Linked DNA regions of Homo sapiens: region 1 is linked to region 2. Evidence: fine-mapped expression QTL. A gene starts in region 2. The other region holds a variant in brackets. All regions are shown on one strand. Distances are from middle to middle. Region 1 has its middle 23 kb from the start of CCDC32. Region 2 holds the start of CCDC32 (coiled-coil domain containing 32).

What was found. PIP is the estimated chance that this variant, and not a neighbour inherited with it, causes the effect.
Region 1: its variant is fine-mapped to the expression of CCDC32 in whole blood (TOPMed, PIP 0.97).

What each region holds. Positions count from the first base shown.
Region 1 is chr15:40,536,235-40,548,099 of GRCh38, reverse strand. It overlaps a transcript of CCDC32 not described here. Among named protein-coding and RNA genes, the nearest start is that of CCDC32, 23 kb to the left of the region's middle. RefSeq lists an enhancer at 4,064-4,163 and a silencer at 4,314-4,413. The variant A/G (reference allele first, on the strand shown) is at 5,418.
Region 2 is chr15:40,560,526-40,571,853 of GRCh38, reverse strand. CCDC32 (coiled-coil domain containing 32) reads left to right here and starts at 6,812. Exons shown (of 4, transcript NM_001080792.4): 1 at 6,812-6,878; 2 at 8,827-9,082. The coding sequence starts at 8,839. It overlaps RPUSD2 (RNA pseudouridine synthase domain containing 2), which reads right to left and starts at 2,555. Exons shown (of 3, transcript NM_152260.3): 1 at 1,911-2,555; 2 at 1-250. The coding sequence starts at 2,516. RefSeq lists enhancers at 1,924-1,973, 1,723-2,222, 2,284-2,613, 5,590-5,884, 6,364-6,413 and a silencer at 4,458-4,637.

The sequences.
Region 1 (11,865 bases), 24 kb after region 2:
AGAAATGAATAGGAGTGAGAGGAAATAGAAGGAGAGATAGTGACCCATCAACTGTTTCAACTTTGGCAAAGATGTGGCTGTCTTACAAGTGGGTAAGAAAAAGACAATAAAAATGTTAACAAATTTGTAAAGTCCACATGTGGCCTAGCATATCAGTTTAGAATAGCTGAATAGGATTCTAGACACGAGAGTGCGTGCAAAGGCAACCTTTTTTGTACAGGCCTCCCCTGGGGTTCATGGAGAAAAGTGGGAACAGGTCAGGAAAGGGAGGGACTGTTCTTCCTTGGTGATGCATGCATGCAGAGGTTGATCAAGGCGGCTGCTGGTGGAAGGCAAAAAGCCTCAACTTCCACAATCCTCTCCTTTAAGCAAAAGCCTTAAGCCATGGCGGGAGGGGTAACAAACTTTTGCTTCAGTGGGAGGAATAAAAGCAAAACTTATCTGCTTCTGGTGAGGTGTCAAAACCTTCTTGCCCTTCTTGAACAGGCAAAGACCCATTGCTCCTGGGACTAGAAGCAGAAACCCCCTACCCAGGGGCAGAAGCAGGAAACTGTCCTGGGCTGAAGATTCAAGCGAAGGTCCACTCTGTTGTGGGGAGGGCAAGAACTTTGGCTAATCCCAGATGAACCACATATAAGGCAGAGTTTGGCTTCCATAGGGAAGAGGGACAGAAACACTGAGAAAGTCCCACTGCTGAAGCTCGGGTGCCTAGGACCTATTTAAGACTGAAGCCGGGCCAGGGTAACAGAATCAACCCTGCCCTGCCCTGCCTGAGCCTGGCACCAGATCACAAGCAACAGAAGTCTTCTGCCAGCTGAAAAGCTGAGTGTGGGACAGCAGCACTGAGGAAGCCCTGACACCCCAGTCCCCACTCTAAGCAGCCCACCACTAGAGGAATTTGAAACCTGGGGTGCACTGAAGGTAATGAGAGCACAACCAAACCCAAACCCTGTCCAATTCCTAACAAGACTGACTCAACCCCCCAGACCAACAGGCTGACAGAAGAGGCAGCCCCACTCCCAGATACAGATACTATTTACCTCAGTCTCTGCTGTTTTATACACCATGGGCATTCAGTTAAAAAACTGCAAAACATAGGTCAGGCGCTATGGCTCACACTTGTAATCCTAGCACTTTGGGAGGCCGAGACAGGTGTATCACCTGAGGTCAGGAGTTTCAGACCAGCCTGGTCAACATGGCGAAACCCCATCTCTACTAAAAATACAAAAATTAGCCAGGTGTTGGTGGTGTGTGCCTGTAGTCCCAGCTACTCCACAGGCTGAGGCAGGAGAATCACTTGAACCTGGGAGGGTGAGGTTGCAGTGAGCTGAGATGGCCCCACTACACTCCAGCCTGGGCAACAGAGCAAGACTGTCTCAAAAAAAAAAAAATTGCAAAACACACAAAAAGACAAGAAGAAAACAACCCAATCCATTATCAGAAGATGAATCAACAGAACCAGACTCACAAATGACACAGATGTTGGAACTATCACAGAGGGACTTAAAATAATTATAATTACTATGGGGTCTGGTGGGGAAGGGTGGGCAACTTGCATGAACAGATAGGGAATTTTGGCAGAGACATGGAAACTAAGAGAAAGTGAAATGGGGCTGGACGTGGTGGCTCATGCCTGTAATACCAGCACTTTGGGAGGCCAAGGCAGGAGGAGCACATGAGCACAGGAGTTTGAGACCAGCCTGGGCAACATGAGACCTCATCTCACCAAAAAATACAGAAATTAGCCAGGCATGGTGGCTCGTGCCTGTGGTCCCAGCTACTTGGGAGGCTGAGGCAAGAGAATCACTTGAACCCAGAAGGCGGAGGTTGCAGTGAGCCAAGATCATGCCACTGCCCTCCAGCCTGGGTGACAGGGTGAGACCCTATCTCAGAAAAAAAAAAAAAAGGAAAGAAAAAGAAAAAATAAAGTCAAATGGAAATGCTAGAAATAAACATGATATTAGAGATGAATTGCTTCCACAGGCTTTTCAGTAGGTAGGCATAGGTGAAGAACCAGTGAACTTGAACTGGTCAATAAAAATTCTCTGAACTAAAACACAAAGAGAAACTGGGATGGGGGAAAAGCAAAACAAAGCAAAACCTATAAGAGCTGTGGGACAATAACAGTCTAATATACATGTGATTCCAGCCTCAGAAGGTGAAGAGAGAGAGAATGAGGCAGAATAAATCTTTGAAGAGATGATAGTTACATGAATGAGGTGTGGCGGCAAGGCTAGAGAGAAGTGGATATGGGAGCATTTGCAAGGAGAACCACTGAGGCTTGGTCACTGAGTGGAGGGAAGTGTGGCACCTGAGTGTCTGTCTTGGGAGCTGCAGGCTCTCAGCAGGTAGTAGTGGGTGGTTAGCAGGTGGTGGTGCCAGGATGGAGAGCCAAGCCTAGCTCTCCAGTGCCTGTGCTCTCTGCTGGTACCCCACACCACCTCCTACAGGCCAAAGTGGAACAGTAGTGGGCCTTTGCTCCTCGATTCCCTAGCCTCCAGCCCCAGCCTTTCCTAAGCCCTCAATGTACTATTCCTATTAGTCAATGTGTGGCAGAGAGATGTTCATCTCCCCCCATTCTCTCCACCTCCTCTGTCCCAAGTGTTGTGTCACACATTGCTCTAAAGGTTTTCTTTTCCCAAACAAACTGACTCTCTCCTCCCTTCATTTTGACGTAATCCACTTTTAAAAATTACTTCTTTAGCAGATAAGTAGAAAGGGAGGAGGCAAAGGTGAGAGGGATTGTGTGTGTGTGTGTGTGTATGTGTGCAGAAGAAAGCAGATAGGTTACTGAGAGTTTATGAGCATTTTAAAGAACAGATATTTCCAGGACCAGTTTTGGCTCTTTAATCTTACATCCTTTGGGGATGAGACCATCAAATATTGGCTTAGCAGAATGCCAAGGTGCAGTGTGGTCTTCAGCATGGTGCCTGATCAAGGCAGACAGGATGCGGAGTGTACATTGGGTAAGAGTATGGTAGAGGAGACCCACAGTTGTTAGAACAATCATCCCAAAGGTAAACTCTTGGATTGATAAACTGACATGTTGTTGGTTTCTTTTTCCTCTGTTCAGCTCAACATCTTTATCAATGATTTGGTTGAGTGAATAGAAGGTAACCTTATCAAAAGTGAGAGGAGTAGGTAATTGAATAAAAGAATAACAATTCTAAAATTTTTCTATAGACTAGAGTGATGGGACAAAGTATGAAACATGATACAGATAAATGTGAAATCTTTCATTTGGGATCAGAAATTAACTACACAACTAGAGGACAGAGAAGAACAGAGTATTTATTAGTTTGTTCTAGTGACAGAAGCCAAGAAGCCAGACTCTGGAAAGTTTTCCAAGGCTGTTGAAAAAAAAAAATCCAAGCCGGACTCAATTCTAGTCTAAGACATATAGAGCTGGCTTCAGTTAGCTGGACCTCAGGACTCCAGCAGTATCTTTAGCCTCTCTTCCTCCCACTGTTGACTCTCTCTGTGTGTTGGTATAGCACAGGGAGCTCTGGGCTGACATGATTCCAGTTTAGGAAGTCCAGAGGAAAGATAACACTTTCCAACCCCATATAATAGATGCCAGGGGGCTCCGCACAGTGGTTTAGGCTTAACAATCCCAGCACTTTGGGAGGCCAAGGTGGGAGGATCACTTGAGCCCAGGAGTTTGAGACCAGCCTGGGCAACAGAAAGAGACCCCGTCTCTACAAAAAAAAAATTTAAAAATTAGCCTGGCGTGGTACTGCATGCCTGTAGTCCAGCTACTCGGGATGCTGAGGTGGGAGGATTGCTTGAGCCCAGGAGGTTGAGGCTGCAGTGAGCTATGATTGCCCTACCGCACCCTATCCTGGGCGACAGAGCAAGATCCTGTCTCAAATAAATAAATACATTCCAGGGGAGGGACTCAGATTGGCTTGGCCTGGGTCACATGCTCATCATTGGAGCACTGACTATGACAAGGGCAAGATCTATGGTTAGGGGTACAGGATACTGTGGTAAACAGTCCCACCAGAACCATATGAGAATGGGAAGTGAAAGAGGATTGCTGTTGGCTGAAGAAAGGGGAAAGTGGTATGGAAAACCCCAAACAGGTGTTCAGTGTCTTAACAGTTCAATGGAGTCAGCAGTGTTATGTGCTGCTAAAAAAAAGTTATAATTCTAGGAATCAATAGTGGAAATGTACCTGTGTACCTGGGACATAGTAGTGTAAAAATATATTCTGCAGTGGTCATGCCTCTCTGAAAGCATCGTCTGGGCACCACATTGCAAGAGGATGTTCTGCAGTGAGCAGGTCTATGCAAACCTACCCCTAAAGGCCAAGAGAGCTGAGGGGCCAAAGAAACAGGCTGACAAGCCCGGGTGCAGTGGCTCATACCTGTAATCCCAGCACTTTGGGAGGCTGAGGTGGGTGGATCACGAGGTTAGGAGTTTGAGACCAGCCTGGCCAATATGGGGAAACTCCATTTCTACTAAAAATACAAAAATTAGCTGGGCACGGTGGCGTGCGCCTGTACTCCCAGCTACTTAGGAGGCTGAGGCAGAAGAATCTCTTGAACCTGGGAGGCAGAGGTTGCAGTGAGCCAAGATCATGCCACTGCATTCCAGCCTGGGCGACAGAGTGGGACTCTGTCTCAAAAAAACAACAACAACAACAACAAAAACAAAACAGAGAGAGAGGCTGACGAATCTAGTTTCTCAGAGATAAATGCTTAATAGAAACTTATGCACAGAAGCCATACCTTGGTTGGTCACGAGATGGTGGTTTCCATGCCCGCCCTCCAGAAAGTATCCTTTGTATAACAAGTTTTTAGGGGAAAACATGTGCAGCTGGTCACACCTCAGACTTTATTGCAAGTTTCATGACCACTGGGGAGGTTAGATAAGCATCTTTATGAGGGGTTATTTATGCTACAGGCATTCTTTCTTTTCTTTTTTCTCTTTCTTTTCCATTTTGTTTTTTTTTTTAGACAGAGTCTGGCTCTGTCACCCAGGCTAGAGTGTAGTGGCATTATCACAGCTTATTGCAGCCTCAACCTCCCGGGCTCAAGCTGTCCTCCCTCCTCAGCCTCCTGAGTTTGCTGTGACTATACCCCTGGCTAATTTTTTTTTTTTTTTAAGAAAAGTCTCAGTATGTTGCCCAGGCTGGTCTCATACTCCTGGGCTCAAACAATCCTCCTACCTTGGCCTTCCAAAGTGTTGGGATTATAGGCATGAGCCACCCCACCTGGCCAGGCATCTTTTTTTTTTTTTTCTTTTGAGACAAAGTCTCGCTCTGTCCCCCAGGCTGGAGTGCAGTGGCAACCTCTGCTCCCGGGTTCACACCATTCTCCTGCCTCAACCTCCTGAGTAGCTGGGACTACAGGTGCCTGCCACCATGCCCGGCTAATTTTTTGTATTTTTTAGTAGAGACGGGGTTTCACCGT[A/G]TTAGCCAGGATGGTCTCAATCTCCTGACCTCGTGATCCTCCCGCCTCAGCCTCCCAAAGTGCTGGGATTACAGGCATGAGCCACTGCGCCCGGCCCAGGCATTGTTTCTTGACCTTGCCACAGGAATGCCTTGGTATGCAGGAGTCAAACATCAGTCATTATGGCAGTTTTGCTTCAAGGTGGTGCCATTCTTGCAACAGGGTCTTTTCCTACAGAGGAACATCGACAAACTGCAATGCTCCCTAGAGGAGGGGTCCAGGGTGAGCAGGCTCAGATCGAGTTATTTGAAGACAGGACAAGACAATAAGATTGTTTTCCATAGAAAAGAGATTTAAGAGAGACCCGGTTGGCTTTAAAATATTTGAAGGAGTATTGGGTAGAAAGCTGAGACACACTGAAGTACAAAGGACAAACTAGGACCAATGGCAGGGAGTTTCAGGAAGACCAATTACCATTCAGTGTTAAGAACTTTCTAATAGCTGTTCAACAATAGGGTGGCCTTGTAGAAGATAGTAATTCCCTGTCACTGGAGGTGTGTCAGCAGATGTCAGAAAGGTTGTAAAGGGGATTCCTGCATTGTGTAGAAAGTTGGATCAGGTCACCCCTAAGGTCCTTTCCAATTATGAAAATCTGTGGTTGGCTACTGGAGACCTATGGGGGCTTGCTGCTGTTAAGTCAGCCCTGGTCTCCCCAGCATTTGGGAGGGAGAGCTGGTGAGTTCTTCTTTCTCCTCCCTAGATAATAATGACAAACACCTGATCACCTACCAGTCAGTGGTCAGAGGCAGAGCCCTCCAACAGTTCTTATCTTAGCTCAACCCTGAGGGACAGACTCTTGGGTTGGAAGATCACAAAAAGGTCGCTCTTGTGCTGTTTTATGTTCTCTGAACGTGTACCTTGAGACAAGGACCTGTATGTAGGTGGCTGATTTTAGGGGGTGAGCAGGAGTGAGGGAGGGAGGAGAATGAGACAGCTCCCTGTGTTGAGTAGGTCCACTGTGGGTAGTTAGGGCTGTCGCCCTGGGATCACTCTGAGGAGACATAAAGATTATGGCTTAGGCTAAGCGCGGTGGCCTGTAATCCCAACACTGTGGGAGGCTGAGGCGGGTGGATCACCTGAGGTCAGGAGTTCGAGACCAGCCTGGCCAACATGGCAAAACCATGTCTCTACTAAAAATACAAAAATTAGCCGGGTTGGTGGTGTGTGCCCATAGTCCCAGCTACTTGGGAGGATGAGACAGGAGAATTGCTTGAACCCGGGAGGCGGAGGTTGCAGTGAGCCGAGATGGAGCCACTGCACTCCAGCCTGGGTGACAGAGCGAGACTCCGTCTCAAAAAAAAAAAAAAAAATATTACAGCTCAGAATTTTGCCACTGACTGACGGGGCACATCTGGGCTGCAGTTCCACCAGTGCCCATCCTTCATTGGTTGAGGTTTGCTCTTTGGAGGTATTAAGCCCCTGCCACTTTCAGGCAGCCCTGCAGGGGCTAAGAAAAGCCTCACGCAGAGGAGAGAGGAGGGAAACTGAGCATGTACCAGAAGCATCCGCTGCAGCTGCGGCTGGTCACAGAAATGGGCTGGAGGGATGTGAGGCAGCGCGTGAGCATCTGGCACAGTCTCTTTCCCGCCCAGGCCAGGATCCGCCTTCCAGGGCTGTGCGGGACCTTTGGTTTTGACATTTTGGTCTCTGTGGCCCAGTGTGGGAAGTGGTTCTCCCCGGGGGTGAGTTCAGCCCAGCCTAGTCTGAATGTCCACACACTGCTCTCTTGGGTTCAAGTCTTCCTTCTTGGCCCAGCTTCTCACTGGGCTCTCTGGACTGAGGGCACCAGGGCAATGGACGCTCCAGGCTGGCACCTGTTCAACACTCATATGTGAGCTTGGAACATGGTGACATTAGGGGCACTGACTCTACTGTCCTTTCACACTGTGGTCAAGGTTAGGATAGATGAGAGACTGGCCCGGCCCCAGAGTTTCCTGTATTGACAGCCTAATCATTTTCTAAGAAGAAAATGCTGGGCTGGGTGCAGTGGCTCACACCTGTAATCCCAGCACTTTGGGAGGCCAAGGCAGGCAGATCACCTGAGGCCAGGAGTTGGAGACCAGCCTGGCCAGCATGGTGAAACCCTGTTTCTACTAAAAATACAAAAAATTACCCAGGCATGGTGGCAGGCGCCTGTAATCCCAGCTACTCGGGAGGCTGAAGAAGGAGAATAGCTTGAACCCAGGAGGCGGAGGTTGCAGTGAGCCGATATCACGCCATTGCTCTCCAGCCTGCACAACAGAGCGAGACGCCACCTCAAAAAAAAAAAAAAAGAAAAAGAAAAAGAAAAAAATGCTAAGAAGAACGACAAAGAATTCAAAGACCCTGAGAAGCCTCCCTCAAAGCCTTGGAGACACTTCAAAGATGGGAAATCATGGCACTGATGTTAGAGGCAGTGTTCCCTGCCAGGCACTAAAGGCCAATCCAGTTGGCCCAGCCCTCCTGTTACCACTCCTCTGGATTGCCCTAGTCAGAGCTCTGAGCCTGTCTCTCTCTTCCCTGATCCCTTCTCCCACCCTCTGGGCCCCACACTCTTGTCTGGTACTCACTGTTCAGTCTGTCTTTTCCCTCCTCTTGCCCATTCATTACCTCCAGGGGCATCATCATCTCTGAGGTTCACACTTATTCCCTAGATTTTGCCGCAATTTGAAAATCAACCCTTCACACTGTTCCAATGCCCATTTCACCACCTGGGCGAAGTGAGGCTGAGTAGGTATTTATGATGAGTTTGGGGTGACATGGAATCAAGGGCAAGGAGCGGGGTGTGTGTGTGTGTGTGTGTGTGTGTGTGTGTGTGTGTGTGGCAACAGTTTGATCACTCTTATTAGGGGAGGGCCCCTCTTAAGGTGGCAAATGTTGTCCAGCCAGAGGAACAGCCTGGCCAACAAATCAACTCAGACAGACCCTGCCTGACATCTCAGAGAGCAGGAGGCCAAGAGAGACCTATTGGGCAAGGAAATTTCCTGGGATGGGAGCAGGGGCAGCGGAGAGCTGACTGCCTTGGTCTCTGCTTTTCCTCTCTTCCTCTGCCTGGCCTCTTGCTGTGGTGCCACGGGCCCCCGTGTCCCCTGTGCCTCCGTTTGTCTCTTGTCTCTGTCTCAGGCTCCACTTTGCTTTATTTTTCCTGCAGTCCTGCACGGCTGAGGCTGTGTCGACACCTCACTTCCTCGCACCTTCGCACTCTCGGTGCTCCTATGTATGCCTGTCTCTCTTTGACTCTGTTAGTGTGTGCCTCTGACTGTATCTGTCTATCTTCCTCGTCTCTGTCGGTCTGTCTTATTCCCATAGGCCCTGTAACTCCAGAACCCCTGGCAGCAGCAGCTTTTCTGAGGATGGAGCGTGGGACAGCCACCAGTGTGCTGAGCAGAGGTGGCGAAGGACATTTCCAGCCCAGCAGTCGTCATGGTAACAGCCAGGGCGGGCCAGGCAGGGATGTGCAGAACCATGTGGGATTGACCTTTCTGTGGTGTCAGGTTTGAGCGGGAGCTGGGGAGAAACAGCAACAACTACTTCCCTCTGGCCCAGCCCTCAGGGCTTCTGGGCTGGGCTGAATGAAGAAAGGGAGAAGCTGAGAAGTGGGACAGCTGGCGAGAGAGCCAAGAGAGAGACAGGGCTTTAGTCAGAGCCAGCTAGAGAACCCATGGGAAGAGGGACAGGCTGGTCACCAGCAGGCTCCTGCGGTGAGCCCACCTGTGGCAAGCACTAGACCTCAGGCCCCCAGTTGGCAGCGCTCATGGGTGGGTACTAAAGGTCAGTTCCCTATACTCAGAGCTCCCCCAGACTCCTTCAGATCAAATGTCACCTTTTCCATATTGCAAAAGCCTTTATTGCTCTAAGGAAAACATGCTAAATTAAAAAGAACCAAATTATTCTTTTAAAAATAGAAATATTTTAAATGGAAAAGTTCAAAGAAAATAAAAGGCTTTCCAATCCTCCCTCTGCTTCTCCCAGCTCTAAAATTCCTCCACAGTTGCTTCCCATGCCTGCCAGGTTGGAGGAAAGGGACAGGCCTGGGCCCAGCGGCCTCTTCTCTGACAAGGGCACAGAAAGGGAAGCCGGATTGGTCGTTGCCTGAATTTGAGGGGGGCTTGGACTCACAGGCTTCCCGCTAATTCGAACCAGTGAAGGAGACTCATTTCCCTCTATGCCCCCTCTTTCTCCTATTGGGGCGGACATACAGGCAGCAGAAAGAGGTGCCCACAGGTGCCCTGTGACCCCTTGAGGGAGAGGCGAGGGGTGCAGGGCAGCCTCAGGTGAGCTCCATGGAGAACATAGCTTACCAGTGGATCCCATTTCCAGACTTTCAAATCATGGCCATGCAAGAGATCTCGAGCTTTCTGGGACACACTGCTATGGAAAACAAGACCATAGCCTCAGAATAAAAAATGTGGTCTTCTTATTTACTGAAAATCTACCTTCAGGAAAGACATGAAGGGGGCACTCACCAGCCAATAGGTGGGTAACTTAACACAGCAGCACCACAGGCTTTCTTTTATACAGGAGTACAGTCCCCAAATCCCCTTGGAGAACTGCCTCTGGGCCACTTGTACAGGGGAAGGGGACACTTGGCAGGAGAGGGGACCGCAGACCTTGTAGTCATAAGTTAGCATGCTGCTAAAAGACTATTTGAAATGAGTGCTGATTACATATATTTAAAAGTGGTCAGCATTACTGAAGCTCCAGCTTTTTTTTCTGAGGCGGAGTCTTACTCTATCACCCAGGCTGGAATGCAGTGGCACCATCTCGGCTCACTGCAACCTCCACCTCCCAGGTTCAAGCAATTCTCCTGCCTCAGCCTCCCCAGTAGCTGAGATTACAGGTGCCCACTGCCATGCCTGGCTAATTTTTCTATTTTTAGTAGAGACGGGGTTTCACCATGTTGGCCAGGTTGGTCTTGAACTCCTGACCTCAAGTGATCCGCCCACCTCAGCCTCCCAAAGTGCTGGGATTACAGGCATGAGCCAACGCGTCTGGCCAAGAGCCAGCATTTTTGAGACTCGAACCTTTCTCTGACTGACATGTATTGTGGAGCTCAAAATAAACATTCTGTATTTTGGGAGTTGGTCATCACTCTCTAGTTATGCTCCTGTAGAGCTATTACTGAACCTCTGGCCTCTTCCCTGGGTTCTGGAAACCTTCATGTACCCGTGGCCCCCAGAGCAAGGGGTAGGAGACAGGAAGGCTGCTAGTGCCCCGATGGTCCCACACGAGGCTGGGACCTTGGGACACAGGCACTGCATCATTCACTGTTCCCTGCATGGGCTTCAGGAGTGGATGAGAGCCCAGGGCCAAGCCCCTTCCTCTTTCGTTCTGCCCAAGCCCCTTCCCTCCAGCTGCCTTCCCTCCTTGAGTCCCTTGATTCCTCTGTGATCCCCCCTCCAGCTCAGCACCTGGGGCTGGCACCACTCCCCAGGGATACTGATAAAGTCACAGAGCATCTGCCCAGCGCCTGAGGTGGTGTAAGTTGGGGAAGGTGGGTCATCCTGTTAGTTGCTCCTGCCAGGCCTGGAGCCCCTGGTGGTCCTTTAGAATTCTAGATTCTCTTGGTTCCTTTCTCCAGAATCCTTCCCTTCTCGCTCCACTCATGCTCTGGGCCAGGCCCACCACGTCTCCTGGCAGCTGACTATCTCATGCCACCTGCCTTTGTTCTCTATTCCCTTTGCCAAAACCATATTTTCTGGTGAATCCCTCTTCTACTTCAAGGTTCAGTTCAAGTGCCACCATATAAGTGAAGCTGTCCTCAGTCGACCCTAGGTGACTCTGTGGCCCCATGGAACTTTTTCTCATCACCATCGTAGCAGTCATGACTCTGTTTTGACCTCCACTTCTCCACTGGAGAGTGTGTTCCGTGGAATGAACTGGCTTGTAGTGTGACCTGTGAACCTCCAGAGCTTGGCTCTGTGTTGCTCATTGAGTACTTGTTCTTGCAGTGGGCCCTTGCCAAGAGAGGCCCCTGTTCTGGGATGTGAGCCAGAGAAGGTCCGAGACTCATAATTTCATGTGTCATACTCGTCCTCCACCCAGCTCCCCCTGGCCAGATCACAGCCCCCTCCTGCTGCAGGGCCTGTAGTGCCAGGCTGGTTGCAAGACAGGGGTCCTCACCTCTGAGAAAATCATGGCTTGGCCCATTGGCACCCCACCTGGGATGCAGAATGGAGCAGCAACAGCTGGCTGGTGTCTGAACGCTATTTCCCCAGCCCTGGGCAGCCATCTCCTGTAGCTGTTCCCTCATCCCATGGCTTTACCAACCCCTCCTTGCTGCACTGGAGAGCCTGAGAGCAAGTAGGTTCAGAGTGGGAAGACAGGGCTAAAGGCATCTTCCCGGTCTTCTCTCCTTCCCCTTCCTCCCAGCAGTTGCAGCTGTGCTGCGTGATGATGTGGAACAGAGCACAGTCTTAATTACTGCTCA
Region 2 (11,328 bases):
TCTTGGCAAACATAAGCACCCCTGAGGTAAGGCGGTCAAGCCGATGCAAGGGGTGTAGCTCCTTGAGTTGGTGCTCCTTGCCTAGGATGAAGATAACTGTGTTGTGTCGGAAGCGGCCACAGGGGTGAACGGGAATGGAGGAAGGCTTGTCTACAACCACCACATCTTCGTTCTCAGCTAGCAGGCGAATGGGCTCTGCTGTGACTGGTGGCTCATGCCTGTGCACTGTGTTCCGCAAGAAATCATTGTCCTGTCAAAGACATAGGTAATAAGTCAGCCTAGGGACCGCAGCCTGTAATCAGTCAACTTCATATCCAGCTTCCCCTGTTCCTCACTGACATGGAAAAATGGTGAAAGCACATCTTGGGCTGAAAAAGCAGTGTGCAGAGTGTGATCTCATTTTGTAAAAATACAGACAGACACAGGCAGATAGCTGGCACTGAAAAAGTACTGGAAGGACATATGCAAAAATGTTAACTGTGTTATCTCTGGGTGGTTAGATTATGAATGTTTTTTGGCTTTGCTAATTGTATTTTCTCTACAATAAAGGTATTTAAAAGGTAAAATTTTTTAGCCGGGCGCAGTGGCTCACGCCTCTAATCCCAGCACTTTGGGAGGCTGAGGTGGGTGGATCACGAGATCAAGACCATCCTGGCTAACATGGTCAAACTCTGTCTCTACTAAAAATACAAAAATTAGCAGGCGTGGTGGCACATGCCTGTAATCCCAGCTACTTGGGAGACTGAGGCAGGAGAATCGCTTGAACCTGGGAGGCGGAGGTTGCAGTGAGCCGAGATCGCGCCACTACACGCCAGCCTGGGCAACAGAGCAAGACTCTGTCTCAAAAAAAAAAAAAATAAATAATCAAGGTAAAATTTTTTTAATGGAGGAAAAAACCTCCATAAATCATCACTTATTACGATCTTGAACAAACAAAACTAAGGCTTAAGTCCAGGGATATGGGCTCTAGACCAGGATTTGCCACAGGCTCGCTACATGCTCTTGGGCAAGTCATTTATCTTTTCTGGGTCTCTGCTTCCTGTGGAATGTGAGGGTTAGACCAGATCTGTGCTTTAGAAATTGGGATAGGAGAGGGAATTCGTCAATGTATGATATATTGACGCAAATCGATTGATCAATGGAACAAGTTACTCCAAAACCATCCATTCCCCAAATGCTGTAATCGCCTTTTCTCCACTCACAACCATGGTAAACTAGTGTTACTGAGAGGTAAACAGTGTTACTTCTGACAGGGGTGTCTGGTACCTCATAGATGTGATGGAATTTTAAAGGAGTCAAAGCACTGGGCTAAACAATTCTAGTCTCTATCCCTGACATCTCATAACTCTATGTTAAATAGTTTAAGTAGTAGTTATAGGAACATAGGCTTTGGTAGTGGCACTGTTGATAGCCTTACCCCTGTGAGTTTCCTTAGTTTCCTCAGAGGTAAAATGGAGTGGCAATACCTACTTCACAAGGCTGTCATTAGAATTAGTGGACATACAATGTTTAACTTTGTGCCCAGCACACAGTAAAGAGACATAAATGATAGCCCCTATTATTACTATTTGCACAGAGATCTACAACGCAGGGTAAAGTGATCAGTGCCCTTGCCACAAGACGGTGTTTAAAGGAATTATGAAAATTCCAACTTCTGTCCCTTGGAAACAAGGAAGCTGCCTTGAGGAAGAGGATAAACAGGCTGAGTCCTGAAGCACAGACACCCTGGCCACTTGCGGAGGTGGGAAACGGGCTAAAATAGTGTTCCAAATGAAAGCGAGAACGCTTTAGAATTGCCATGATTTTAATCCAGTACCTATGCTTTACTAAGACTAAAAAACAAAACAAAACAAAACAAAACCCGGCCCCTTTTCCTCGCCCGCTTCTGGCCAGCCCCATCAGGACTCCACCTTGAGCACGATGTTGAGGTCCTGCACCGGCTTCTCGTTGAGTTGCAGGCGGCCCGCCCGGACCGCGGCCTCATAGTAGGCCAGGGGCTGAGCTCGGAACTCGGTACTGAAGACGTGCAGCAAGCTGTGGCCCACCCAGCGACCTTTGCAGTAGGTCCGGAAGTCAAAGTAATAGGGCCGCACCTTACGCAGGCCGCCCTCGAAGTAATAACTGGTTTCTGCAAAGTGCTCATCTCCGAAGCTCACCCCGGTCCGCCGCTTCTTCGGGGGCGGCACGACACGCTCCCTGGTTGCGCCCCGCCGCTTCTTATGCTTGCCCGGGCCTGGGGCTGCAGCCGAGGGATGCTCCCCGCCTACTGGGGCCGGCTCCACTTCCCGGCCAGCCGGCTTCGGGGGCCCGGGGGACAGCTCAACCTTCGCGTCGCCACCAGCGTCACCGTTTTGCTGATGCGAAGCCCTCAGCCCGCCCTCTGTCCCAACCTGGGTAGACACTGTTTCTGCCATTGGGCCCTTATCGCCACTCCAAGTCCTGGTAAAGCTAGGGCGCCTAAGGTCGTAGCGCCAATGTCCAAGAACCCTGAGCCATCCGCGGCGGTCCAGCCACATAACCACGCTGCCCCCACTCCACTCCCAGGGTCGCGATCTGAGGACGTCACTCGGCCCCAGCGAATCAGGGAGGCCCAGTCCCGAGGCGGGGTCTGCGATAAGTGAGCGAATGAGTGAGCTGCTCGAATTAAATTAGGTGAATTGAGTGAGCTTAGAGATGAGAGACTGTAAATGTCTCACCAAAAGTGACCTTACTCAGACGTCTTCCTATTAGGGAGATACGACGTTATTTATAAAGGAAACCCTTGGAATTGCTCCGTGTAAAGGCCATGACAGGAGTAGGTCGTGTAAATTCCGAGTAGTCCCTTGGGTCTGAAGAAACGCTTGAAAGGAGCTTTATTTAAGACAAAACAAAAACTAACAACCAGAATAAAGATTGCTAAACTCTGCGAATATACTAAAACCCACTGTATTCTATATTTTAAAAGGGTCAATATTATAGTATGTGACTTGTATCTCAGTAAGATTGTTATATATGTATTTAAAACACACACAAGCACCCCAGAAGCAATGTGTTCACACCTGTGTTTCCCCCTAACAGCATGAGAAGGATTAGTGATCCCCATTCGCCTCCCACATGCTTCCATCCTGAGATTAAAACTGCAAATAGATCAGAGGATATATGGCGAGGGTTCTTAAGTGCAAAATAAACCAACTCTGGCTAATTTCATCAGAGATAGAATTATGGAAAGTATATTAGTGCCTCATAGAATTCACAAGACAACTGGAGACTAGGCTCAGAAAAAGGGCCAAATCAAGGGAAACCAAGCCTTTTGAGAGCCTGGCTTCAGACATGTCAGGGAAGAAACCCAGTTGGGATGCAGTAGACACAAGAAACTATGTTGTGCCAAAGGACTCTTTTTCCTGCAGCCCTGCCACCCCTTGGAGACCCCTAAATCTCCCTGTGTCTCTGTGTCCCTCTTCCAAGGTTAAGAGTCCTGCAGGGGAGGACTTCCATCAGCCAAACCTCATTGCTCTGAGCCCTCACTTCCAGGGTGCCTGGAGATGGAAGAATTTAACCCTCTTTTTTTTTTTTTTTTTTTTTTTTTTTGAGACGGAGTCTTGCTCTGTCGCCCAGGCTGGAGTGCAGTGGAGCGATTTCACCTCACTGCAACCTCCGCCTCCTGAGTTCAAGCCATTCTTCTGCCTCAGCCTCCTGAGTGGCTGGGACTACAGGCACGCACCACCACGCCTGGCTAATTTTTATATTATGAGTGCTGGGATTACAGGCGTAAGCCACCGCGCCCGGCCAAGAATCTAACCCTCTTTGGTATCCAGAGTGGGATTCTTCCAAATAAGGAGGCATTTCAATGTTAGTTTGCCAAAAAAAAAAAAAAAAAAAAGACAGTCTAATTCTTATCCTAGGCATTTGTATTCTGGAGAGGAGAAAGGGAAATCTTTTTTAGCTAAATTCCTTCTTCAAGTCATTAGTCTCACCAAACTAACTGAGGGACTGCAGCTGAGGTATCCACAGCTGCAGAACTCCATATGCTGAAAAGTCTGATTCCTGACTACCTCCAGAAATAAGAGGTAGAATTCTCCATTGATTGTGGGGTATGTTAGAACCAAACTACTTCACAGGAGGGACATCATCTCTCAAGTGCATCATTTCATTAAGATATTTACAGTGAAAGCAGAACCTTATCCAAAAGAAAAGTATGTATTCTTAGCTAGCCTCTTTGCTCCATAGGATTGGGGTGGGAGAATTAAATTAGTTAATTCAAGTAAAATACTTGGACTAGTGCCTGGCAAAACTGTGGAGACAGAAAACATAGCAGAATCTTGTTCCTCCTCCCCTTCTGACCTACTAAATGAGAATCTGCACTTTAACATGATCCTCAGGTGATTTTTCTGCATATTAAAGCTTGAGAAGCACTGGCATAGACCATGTAGAGTAGACATTTGTCATATTCTGTAAACATCCAGCATCTTCCGAACACCCTTCTTTTGGGTGGGGAATTTCTCACATTTCATTACTGCCCCCAAAAGGTAGAAGCCAGAGCCTTCCCACACTCTCTTGCAGCTTGGACATAGGCATTTGACCTGGGCTCTATCTCTTAGACAGAGGCTTTGGTTCAGAGGCACACAGCCGCGGAAGCAGGCTCAGTGTGAAATCCGTGTCTAACAAGGTAGCATTGGAGGCATCTAATCTGGGAGGCCAACAGTCGGGGAGGTTCTTGTGTCAAGTACCCAATCGACGAATAATGCCAGCTATAGATGTTCAGTGGCTGTGGGGTGTTCCCTGAGCAGTCTCTCAGTGAGATTCAGATACTGTCCCTGGCTGTATAGACCTAAAGCCTGACTCTCCACTCACCTTGAGGTTCTGTGAACTATGTAATATTCTCCAATCCTGTGCTATACAATAGGATCACCATTAGCCATGTGCTGTACAATAGCCACATGTGGCTAATTAAATTTAAATTAATTAAAATTTTAACAAGTTTTGAAACAAGATCTCACTCCCATCACCCAGGCTGGAGTGCAGTGGCACGATTTTGGCTCACTGCAGCCTTGACTTCCCAAACTGAAGTGATCCTCCCACCTCAGGCTCCCTAGTAGCTGAGACGACAGACATGTGCCACCATGACTGGCTAATTTTTTGTATTTTTAGTAGAGACGAGGTTTTGCCACATTGCCTAGGGTGGTCTCAAACTGGGCTCAAACAATCCATCCACCTTGGCCTCCCAAAGTGTTAGGATTACAGGCCGGATGTGGTGGCGCAACCTCCGCCTCCTGGGTTCAAGTAGTTCTCCTACCTCAGCCTCCTGAGTAGCTGGGATTACAGGCATGCGCCTCCACGCCCAGTTAATTTTTGTATTTTTAGTAGAAACAGGGTTTCACCATGTTGGCCAGGCTGGTCTCGAACTGCTGATCTCAGGTGATCCACACCCCCTCAGCCTCCCAAAATTCTGGGATTACAGGCATGAGCCACCAAGCCCGGCCAGGAACTGAATTTTAAATTGTATTTTAGCTGGGCGCAGTGGCTCACATCTGTAATCCTAAAACTATGTTGTTTTTGTTGTTGTTGTTTTCTTTTTCTTTCTTTCTTTTTTTTTTTGAGACGGAGTCTTGCTCTGTCACCCAGGCTGGAGTGAGAACTATTTCCTCAGCCAAGTTACTTGGCTACTGATGGTTGGCTGATGTCTTTCATCACGTGTTTCTTGGGAGAGAGTAACTGGTGTTGATCCTGGAAGCTGGGGATGGGGAGGGGTCGATCTCAATGAACAAGCTGGTATCTATCCCCTGAAGGATATCAAAGGTCATCTCCTTTAACAACTACAACAACAAAGCATTCTGACACACACTTCTTATGACCACTCTCTCCTTTATGTACTCTGGCCACACTTCCATCATATACTCTATAATCCTCAACGCCCCCCTCCTTTTTTTTTTTTGAGACAGTCTTGCTCTGTTGCCCAGGTTGGAATGCAGTGGTGCGATCTTGTCTCACTGCAACCTCTGCCTTCCCGGTTCAAGCGATTCTCCTGCCTGAGCCTCCCGAATAGCTAGGATTCCAGGCATGTGCCACCATGCTCAGCTAATTTTTGTACTTTTAGTAGAGACAGAGTTTCACCATGTTTCACCCAGGCTGGTCTCGAACTCCTGACCTCAGGTGATCCACCTGCCTCGGCCTCCTAGAGTACTGGGATTACAGGCGTGAGTCACCGCGCCCGGCTGTCTATCACTGTTTACTGTTATTTGTAAACTTTTATGCCTCCATGGCGGACCCCCTTCCTACACTACTAAGCTGTAAGGATCTCCAGGACTTATATCAAGTCATATGTGTCTTAACTTCACGCTTAACACAATGCTTAGAACACAGCAGGTGCTTGGTATCTATTGACTAAATGAATGAAGGAAAGCTTCATAATTTGATGAATGAGACACGAGTCTCCTGGGAGAGTAAGGAAAGAAGCCGCCGAAGTGCTCTAATTTGGGTAACGAAGGGGTGAAATTTTTAGAAGACAAACACCGACAGAGAAAGTTGTGGAGGAGGTGAACTGGCTCCGGCGACTAGGAAAAGTCAAAAGTCTTGGAAACGACTTCCCTATCCAAGCAGGGACTGGAACCCTGGATCTGCAAGGAATCAACCTGGCCCTCGGGAGGGGAGGGGCAATGCTCAGGGCACGTGACTCCACCGTTTCCCGGCAACCAGAGCCCCGTCCACCGCTCGCCTCTTGCTGCTCCTCACTTCTTCACCACGCTGAGCTCCTCTCGACCAATCGACGCACAGAACATCGTCGGGTGGGAAGGTAGTTGGAGGACTCCTGGGCTCCGTCACTAGGGGACTCCGCCCCTCCCGATTTCCTCCGGGCTACAGGCGACAGAGCTGAGCCAAGCGTTTACTGGGCAGCTGTTACGGTAAGTGAGGAGGGGCTGGGGTGCCCAGCGTTTTGGATCTCCCACTCTGGCCCGGCCCCGGAATACCACATAGAGGCCTTGGGACCTGATTCATCCCGTCCAGACAGCCCTAGAGACCTGAGCGACTGAGGCCTGGGATCTGGACGCCGGAATTTCCTGCGTGGTTCTGGACGCCCTGCCCTGGGGTAAGGGGCCATGCGGGGCTCTGGTGTGAGCAAAGTTTTGGTTTTGGGTGGCTTTAGACGAATTCGGGTTGGGGGTTCACTGTAGCGCTAGACATCAGTTCACCCAGGACCGCCGTGTCATAGCTGTCCCTTTTACTTCCGGCCTTTACGCTGGCTGGGCTCTGTCTCCTGGCATTATTCAGACCTTGCCTCAGGCAGCCTTCCTGATTTCTAAGTCTCCTCTTGAAAGAAGGTGTCAGCCTGTCTCATATGCCTAGATAGTTATAAAAGCCTCCAGGCTCTTTGCGTAGCTTTTCCTACCTGCCCGTGCTTGGGCTGCTTTCGTTATATTTTCCAAACAAGCAGGATGGTATTTGATAAAAACATGGATTCTGGAGCAGCACAGATCTGGTTTTCCTGTCAAGGATTCCCCACATATCAGTAATGTGCCCTAGAGCAAGTTACCCTTCTGAACTTGTTTTTTCATCTGTAAAATGGTGAAAATACCTACCTTTCAGTGATTGTATTAAAATAAGAGCATGAGACATACGGCTGAACTGCATGCGCTGAGCACACAGCCCTTGCATTGTAACAGTACTCTCTGACAGACACTTTTTACCAAGCAGGATCTTCATGTATATGGAACTGTGGAAAGACCTTTAGTCTGTGTTCTGTTGAAAACAGAATTTAGGGGCCGGGCGCGGTGGCTCACGCCTGTAATCCCAGCACTTTGGGAGGCCGAGGCGGGCGGATCACAAGATCAGGAGATCGAGACCACCCTGGCTAAACGGTGAAACCCCGTCTTTACTAAAAAATGCAAAAAATTAGCCGGGCGTGGTGGCGAGTGCCTGTAGTCCCAGCTATTTGGGAGGCTGAGGCAGGAGAATGGCGTGAACCCGGGAGGCGGAGGTTGCAGTGAGCCAAGTTAGCGCCACTGCACTCCAGCCTGGGCGACAGAGCGAGACTCTGTCTCAAAAAAAAAAAAGAAAGAAAGAAAGAAAAAAAAACAGAATTTAATTGACTGGAGATAGAACTGTTGCATTTTGGAGATCTTTGGAGAAAAGTGCAGGCTGGTTGTCCAACCTGGAAATGCCCTACAGATTTGTGTGTGTGTGTGTGTGTGTGTGTGTGTGTTAAAATATATGTAGCATAAAATTGACCATTTTAACTATTTTTGTGTGTATGATTCAGTGGTGTTCACATTGTTGTGCAACCATAACTACCATCCACCTCCAGAACTTTTTCATTTTCCCAAACTGAAACTGTGTACCCATTAAACAGTAATTCCCCATTCTTTCTACCTCCCAGCCCCCAGCTCCCACCATCCTATTTTCTGTATCTATGAATTTGACTACTCAGGTACCTTATATAAGTGGAATCACAGTATCTGCCTTTTGTGTATGGCTTGTAGGAATTCCATTTTTATTTTTATTTTATTTATTTATTTGTGAGACAGGGCCTCGCAATGTCACCCAGGCTGGAGTGCAATGGCGTGATCACCACTCACTGCAGCCTCTATCTCCTGGGCTAAGGTGATCCTCCTACCTCAGCCTCCGGAGTAGCTGGGACTACAGGCATGTGCCACCACACCTGTCTAATTTTTGTATTTTTAGTAGAGATGGGATTTTGCCATGTTTCCCAGGCTGGTCTCGAACTGCTGGCCTCAAATGATCTGACTGCCTCGGCTTCCCAAAGTGTTGGGATTACAGTCGTGAGCCACTGTGCTCAACCTTATGCTGTATTCTTAAAGCCAGTTCTTACTCACTTGAGCTTCTGTTTTATAGCTCAGATTCCAAATGAAAATGTTTGAGAGCGCTGACTCTACAGCCACAAGATCTGGCCAGGATCTCTGGGCTGAAATTTGTTCCTGTCTGCCAAATCCTGAACAAGAAGATGGTGCCAACAATGCATTCTCAGACTCCTTTGTGGATTCTTGCCCTGAAGGTGAAGGCCAGAGGGAGGTGGCTGACTTTGCTGTCCAGCCAGCTGTAAAGCCTTGGGCTCCCTTGCAGGATTCAGAAGTGTATTTAGCATCTCTAGGTAAGTTTGACGGCTCTAGGGAAGCATATTGAAGTTCTGTTACATCAAACTTGGTTTCCTATTCTTTTGTGTTGTTGTTATTCCTGTCACACGTATCTGTCAGATATAATTCCAAGGGATGTTTCAAGCCGGCTGTTGGGAAGCAGCCCCCTTTTCCTTGAACAGATCTTTTTTTATTTTTATTTTTAATTTTTTGAGACTTTCACTCTTGTTGCCCAGGCTGGAGTGCAGTGGCGTGATCTTAGCTCATGGCAACCTCCACCTCCCGGGTTCAAGCGATTTTCCTGCCTCAGCCTACCGAGTAGCTGGGATTACAGGCGCCTGGCACAATGCCCGGCTAATTTTTTGTATTTTTAGTAGAGATGGGGTTTCATTTCACCATGTTGGCTAGGCTGGTCTCGAATGCCTGACCTCAGGTGATCCACCTGCCTCGGCATCCCAAAGTGCTGGGATTACAGGCATGAGCCGCCGTGACTACCCGAACAGCTCTTAAAACAGTTTTTGTCACTTCCTGCCTCTGCCCAGTTCATCTAAATTCTGTGTTTGATTTCTTGGCATTCTGTAGAACCCTCTTGCCTACTGTTGGTTGCCCGTATATTCAAATAACTCAAAAGTGTTAAACCTTATGCCATCCTGCAAGAAAATGTGATGGCCCCAGGGCTACATGTGGATTTCTGATGCTGGAGTTTGAAAAACTTACATAAATAGATTGATTGTTGAGAATGGGAGCATATTGACATAAGATTCATTCTGCCTCTTGTTAGCCATTTTATTTTAAAAATATTTCCTGAACACATTTTCAGTACCCTGTCCTGCGGCCATAGTATAAGTATCTAGAGAGATTCCAAACACAGGAAAGAGATTCAAATTGTCCCATGCTAGGGGAAAAAGAAATATCAGTCTAGGGCGGTGAGGGGCAGTCTTTAGAATTGTAATATCCTTTTATTGTGGAACAACCATGAGATTCATCCATGTTTCACAAAGCCAAACCTGGGAATAAGGCTTACCTTGGCCTCCTGAAGTGCTGGGATTACAGGCGTGTGCCACCGCGCTTGGCCCTAATTTTTTTATTTCAATAGCTTTTGGTGTACAAGCGGTTTTTGGCTACATGGATTAATTGTATAGTGGTGAAGTCTGAGATTTTAGTGCACCCATCACCCAAGTAGTGGACATTGTACCCAATGTGTAGTTTTTTATCCCTCACCCCTCTCCAAACCTCCCCACTTCTGAATCTCCAAAGTCCAGTATACCACTTTGTGTTTTGTTTTTTTTTTGGTTGTTGTTTTGTTTTTTTTTTTTGAGACGGAGTCTCATTCTGTTGCCCAGGCTGGAATGCAGTGGCACGATCTCGACTCACTGCAACCTCCGCCTCACGGGTTCAAGCAATTCTGCTGCCTCAGCCTCCTGAGTAGCTGGGATTACAGTCGCCCACCACCACGCCTGGCTCATTTTTGTATTTTCAGTAGATAGAGAGTTTCACCATGTTGGTCAGAGTGGTCTCGAACTCCTGACTTCGTGATCCACCCACCTCGGCCTCCCAGAGTGCTGGGATTACAGGTGTGAGCCACCGTGCCCGGCCAATATACCACTTTGTATACCTTTGTGTACCCATAGCTTAGCTCCCACTTATAAGTGAGAACGTATGGCATTTTGTTTTCCATTCCTGAGTTACTTCACTTAGAGGATAATGGCCTCCAGCTCCATCTAAGTTGCTGCAGAAGACATTATTTTATTATTTCTTATGGCTGAGTAGTGTTCTATGGTGTATATATTCCATATTTTCTTTATCTACTCATTGCTCGATGGGCACTTAGGTTGGTTCCATATCTTTGCAATTATGAATTATGAAACATGCGTGCAGGTATCTTTTTGATATAACGACTTCTTTTCCTTTGGGTAAACACCTCGTAGTGGGATTGCTGGATCAAATGGTAGATTTACTCTTAGTTCTTTGAGAAATCTCCATATGTTTTCCATAGAGGTTGTACTGATTTACATTCCCATCAGCAGTGTATAAGGATTCTCTTTTTACCACATCCGTGCCAACATCTATTGTCTTTTGACTTTTTAATAGTGGCCATTCTGGCTGGGGTGAGGTGGTAGCTCACCATTTTGACTTGCATTTCCCTGATGATTAGTGATTTTGAGCATTTTTTCATATGTTTGTTAGCCATTTGTATATCTTCTCAAATCCCATTGAGAAATGTCTATTCATGTCATTTGCCCACTTTTTGATGGGATTGTTT